2 separate regions of the Homo sapiens genome follow, and region 1 is linked to region 2. Evidence: fine-mapped expression QTL. A gene starts in region 2. The other region holds a variant in brackets. All regions are shown on one strand. Distances are from middle to middle.

Region 1 (2,911 bases), 77 kb before region 2:
CCCTCATACAGGGTCCCCACTGGGGCACTGCCTGCTGGAGCTGTGAGAAGACAGCCACTGTCCTCCAGACCTCAGGATTGTAGATCCACTAACAGCTTGCACCATGTGTCTGGAAAACCTACAGACACTCAACACTAGTCTGTGAGAGCAGCCATGGGGGCTGAACACTGTCAAGCCACAGGGGAGGAGCTGTTCAAGGCTTTCAGGGTTCACCCCTTGCACCAGTATGCCCTAGATGTGAGACATGGAGTCAAAGGAGATTATTTTGGAGCCTTAAGATTTAATGACTGCTCTTCTGAGTTTTGGACTTGCACGGAGACTGTAGCCTCTCCCTTTTGGCCAATTTCTCCCTTTTGGAATGGCAGCATTTACCCAATGCCTATACCTCCATTGTGCCTTGGAAGTAGCTAACTTGTTTTTGATTTTACAGGCTCATAGGCAGAAGGAACTAGTCCTGTCTCACATGAGAATTTGGACCACAGACTTTCGAGTTAATGATGGAATGAGTTAAGACTTTGTGGGATTGTTGGGAAGGCAGGATTGTATTTTGAAATGTGAGAAGGCCATGAGATTTGGGAAAGGCCAGGGTAGAATATGGTTTGGATCTCTGTCCCCACCCAAACCTCATGTCCACGTGTAATCTCCAGTGCTAGAGCTGGGGCTTAGTGGGAGGTGACTGGATCATGAGAGTGGATCTTTCATGAATGGGTTAGCACCATCCGTTTGGTGCTGTTCTTGTGATAGAGTTCTCACGAGATTTGGTTGTTTAAAAGTGTGTGGCACCTCCCTGCTCTGTCTTCCTCTTGCTCCCACCATGTAATATGAGCCTGCTTGTCCTTCACCTTCCACCATGATTGTAAATTTCCTGAGGCGTCCCCAGAAGCAGAAGCTACCATGCTTCCTGTAGAGCTTGCAGAACCATGAGCCAATTAACCTCTTTTCTTTATAAATTACCCCAGTCTCAGGTACTTATTTGTAGTAGTGTAAGAATGAACTAATATAAACACAAACGAAAAAGACAAAAAAAATTGATATTTTAAACTTAATAAAAATTTAAAACTTTTGCTTTATAAAAAATACAAGAAAAATTCTTATCCAGACGAAATGGCATAGACTTCTTTCTCTCTGCTCCCCTCTGCTAAATATAATCATAATCCTTGCAATACCACAAGAGACAAGAGATCACCAAAGAAAAAATCTAAAAGGTCAAAAGAGGAACTAGTGTGAGATCCTAGGACCAGAATAATGACACAAGGGAAAGGCATGTTACCTCCCTTCACCCCACAGAAGAAGGCAACCCAGACCTGGTGTTTCCCAAACCTCAACCTAGCGACAGAAGGTAGTCCAGGTAGGACCATTCTATCTCTACAATAAAAGAGTAGTCCTCTGAGGACACTAGATAAGCATGGCACCACTGGCAAAGGGATGGGTCCCAGGGCCCAGTTCAAAACAATCA[T/G]CCAGGGAAGCACTCTCTGTCCCTTACAAACCCAAGACTTCCCTCCTGCAACTAGATATACCAGAGTGGCAGTGGCATCAGCAATAAGACCTCTGTCACAACAAATCCTCTTTGTCCTCAAAGACCTGAGACTCCCCTTCTGCACCAAGAGACATCAGGCTTCCCAGCATGAGAAAACTTTTACACCCCATCAGCACCAGCAGAGACCAGTGGCAACCCCAGGCAAACCAAGAACAAAATAACATCACAAAGGCTCTAAAAATTAAACTTTCATTGGAAATACAGACCACAAAAGTAGGCCACAAACTTCACACTGAACCTAAGCAGTGTGACTGCCTGCTAAAAGAGAAAAAGAGAGAGAGAGAGAGAATTGAATTAAAATGTAACATACCAAAATATGTAGAATGTAGTTAATGCAGGGTTGAAAGAAAAATTTATTCCCCCAAATATTTACACTGGAAATAGGGAAAGGTCTCAAATCATTAATCTAAGTCTCTACTTCAAGAAATTAGAAAAACATGGTTTAAAAAAAATAGTTAAAAAGAATAAGACCTACTATTTGATAGCACAACAAGGTGACTATATTCAATAATAATTTAATTATATAGTTTAAAATAACTAAATAGTATAATTAGATTGTTTGTAATCCAAAAGATAAATGCTTGAGGAGATGGATACCCTATTCTTCATGATGTGATTATTAGGAATTGCATGTCTGTATCAAAACATCTCATGTACCTCATAAGATTATACACCTACTATAAACTCACAAAAATTAAAAATTAAAAAAAGAAATTAGAAAAACAAAAGCAAACTAAACCCAAAGATAAAATGATGGGAATATTAAAGATATGATCAGAAATCAAGAAAATTGGCAATAGAAAACCAATAGAAAAAAAATTCAGTAAAGCACAAGCCAATAAAATTGATAAAACTCTAGCGAGACTAGCAATAATGAAAAGAGAAAACACAAATCACTACTATGAGGCATGAAACAAGATATATCACTACAGGTCCTGAAGCCATTAAAAAACACAATAAGGGAAAACTACACACAACTTTACACTGATAAATTTTAAAATTTAGAAGAAATGGACCAATTTCTCAAAAGTTACTAGCTGCCAAACTTCAACCAAGATGAAATAGTTTGATTTGTACTATAACTAAAGAAATGAATTAGTAATTAAAAGGTTCACAAAGAGGCCGGGCGCAGTGGCTCATGCCTGTAATCCCAGCACTTTGGGAGGCTGAGGCAGGCAGATCACCTGAGGTCAGGAGTTCGAGATCGGCCTGACCAATATGGAGAAACCCTGTCTCTATTAAAAATACAAAATTAGCTGGGCATGGTGGTGCATGCCTCTAATCCCAGCTACTCGGGAGGCTAAGGCAGGAGAATTGCTTGAACCTGGAAGGTGGAAGTTGCGGTGAGCCGAGATAGCGCCATTGCACTCCAGC
Region 2 (2,911 bases):
GGTAGATTTAATAATAAGGAAGATTATGTAGTATTTACACAACAAAACTCCCAAACTCCTTTAGACTGTTTTCTTTTACAATCAGATTCTCATGTTAATGGAGATATAATTTCTTACTGTAACTTGTTTAATAGAATGAGAACATTGTTTCTATTGAAGAAAAAGACATAGAGCAGGGTTTGGATCTGGATTCTAATCTTGCTGAGTAACTAACTTTATGCAAGACCTAAAAGGTCCTAGAGCTGTCATAGTCACTTTGATAAACTTTGGCTTCTTTACCAACATGAAAGTCTAACACCCTGGCTGTGATCAGTGAGACAGTGTATCTGCACACGAAAGCATTTTGAATAATTTAACGCAAGTTATTATTTATTAAGGAAAAGCACATGCAAGACACACTTTATTTTTACAGTGGTATAAATGCCACAGGGTAGCATCGTTATAAATTCAGTTTATTTTAGGGCTTTAGCAACCTATAATTTCAGAGTCCACCTAAAAAAACTTTTGCACCAGGAACTGTCTTTCTGTTGCATTTAGCTAAAGAGATTTACCCCCATTTTGAGCACTCAGGCCCATTAGCAATGGTAACGACTAAAGTCCAGTTAGAATATAAAAATTATGCAGTGTATCATAAATTACACCACACTATACAGACAGATAAAATTTACTTTTCTTAGAATTCAGGTCAACAGCAGAAACAAAAATTATCATTTGTGCATAACCTTAATTATTCCCCTCAAGTACACAGAAAAAATAAATGCAGTATACATTTCTTCGAAGAGGTTTGTGGTTACTACCTTTCCTGTGCTGTACTAGTTTTTACATAGGGAACCTTTGTTGCCCTTTAAAATGTAATTTAGAAATGTAACTGATGTGTTTTGCCACCAATAAAACAAATACATATGACAAAATGAATGGATACTCATTTCAGTCTGTACGATTTGTTTTTAAATTATTCTATTTGCAGCTAGAGGAGAAATGTGAGACCATTTCTTTCCTCTCTGCCAATGGCAAGCCGATTTCCCCAGCCCACGTGGACAATTGAACATTAAGTCTAGCGTGCTTCCAGTCTCCCGACTCCTGCCGGGCCATCTGTGGGCACACACACATCTAGGCTAGTACACTGGATGGGGTAAGGCAGTCGACATGGCATCTCTGGTTTGACTACCGGGATTGTGCTATGTAGCTATCCCATGTGTCTGCCGCATCAGTTTATTGGACAGGGAAAGAAAGTGTACTCAGCAGAGTGCACACAGTTACTGCCATCCATTCTTTCGTTCATACACACATTTTACTCCGCTCTCCACGTGCGTTCCGAACGAGAACTGGAACACACACACACACACACACACACACACACACGTGTTCACCGAACCTCACCCAGACTCAGGCCCGGACAAGTCCCCCGCCCACCCAAAGCTCCCCGCCCTTCGCCCTTCCGCCTGCCTCTTCCCACCCTCTCCGACTCCACGTGGGCGCACCCCGGCGCCAGGCGGCCGCGCTGCCCACAGAGCCCCTAGCCGGCCCCGGCACTGGGAGGGAAGGTGCGGCCCTGGGGTCGGACGGACAAAGCCGGCATCCAATCGAGCCCGGCACTGCCTCCCCGAAGGGAGGGAGCGTCTGCTCGGACGGGCCCAATGAGCAAGGAGGCCGAGTGGGACTTCCTCCCGGAATCCCGTTGGCCAGAATAGCCGGGCCGTGGGTGACACGTAAGTTGGGCAGGAGGTGGCGGGGCGGCAGAGGCACCAGCCGACCCGTCAGTGACACCGCTGTGCCGTCCCCAAAACCAGCCGAGACAGCTGGCCCCCACCCTTCCACCCATTGGGCAGGCCGCACGGGGGCGCGGCCCGGAGTCCTGGTCCCTTTGTTGGGCGCGCACCCCCTCCCTTAGGTGGCAACAAAGTCGTGCAGTGGGAGCCGCCGCGATAGGGCGGGGAGTGGCCAGGGCGGGACTCCAAGAACTGCCCGGGGGCAGCGGGGCCAAAAAGTGGGAAGAAGGAAAAAAGGCAGGAGGCATCTGGGGACAGGCGCGAGGGCAGCCGGCTCTGAAGTATGCGGAGGGCCTCCTCCCGGCCCCGGGCATTCGCGGAGAACGAGCCTCGCAGAAGTTTGGCTGCAGCTGCCCGGGCGGCGTCGATGGCTGCGCGCCCCGCGCCGCGCGGGGGCTGAGCGGGCGCCACTTCCCCTCCGGGCCGGCTTTTGTGTCTGGCATCTCCTCCTCATGCTGCGTCTGGCCACCTACTGCGGCGGCCGCTGCTGAGACGCTCGCTCGGACCAAGGGGAGGAGACGGCGGGGGCGGCCGCGGCTTTGGGTCCAGGCGGGACTATGGGAAACGGGATGTGCTCCCGAAAGCAGAAGCGGATTTTCCAGACGCTGCTGCTGCTGACCGTCGTGTTCGGCTTTCTCTACGGCGCGATGCTCTACTACGAGCTGCAGACGCAGCTGCGGAAAGCCGAGGCGGTGGCGCTCAAGTACCAGCAGCACCAGGAGTCCCTCTCCGCCCAGTTACAAGGTACGGCTAACGGGACGCGCGCAGCCGGTGGCCAACTTTGCCCCGCGCCTCCACCCGGGCAGGAAAAGTGGCTTTGGTGAGCTATTGGCACTGTGGTTGCCACCTCTGACCTTCAGGGACGTCAGAGGTGAGCGTTTCAGGACTGCCGGCACCAGAGTGTCAGGGGAGATGACATTCTCATCCTCCCGCTTCTTCCTCCCAGCGGTTAGGTTTAGAACTTCGTAGCACCAGCCCATCGTCCCGCTGGGCGTTTGGTGGGCGGGTGCACAGATAGTCCTTTACCCGAGCTCTTGTCAAAGGCCCAGCTGCAATCGGGGCAGGGAAACTGGTAGCCCTCCGCCGCTTCTGCCAGCCCTGCTCTGAGGAGCATTGTTCCGTGGATTCTAGGTATTTGCTTT

The links. PIP is the estimated chance that this variant, and not a neighbour inherited with it, causes the effect.
Region 1: its variant is the best candidate, but not a certain one, in a credible set for the expression of GOLIM4 in visceral fat (GTEx, PIP 0.78).

What each region holds. Positions count from the first base shown.
Region 1 is chr3:168,171,476-168,174,386 of GRCh38, reverse strand. No RefSeq gene overlaps it. Among named protein-coding and RNA genes, the nearest start is that of GOLIM4, 77 kb to the right of the region's middle. The variant T/G (reference allele first, on the strand shown) is at 1,457.
Region 2 is chr3:168,094,701-168,097,611 of GRCh38, reverse strand. It overlaps GOLIM4 (golgi integral membrane protein 4), which reads left to right and starts at 1,688. Exons shown (of 16, transcript NM_014498.5): 1 at 1,688-2,513. The coding sequence starts at 2,327. RefSeq lists enhancers at 913-962, 1,160-1,661 and silencers at 1,333-1,572, 1,863-1,912.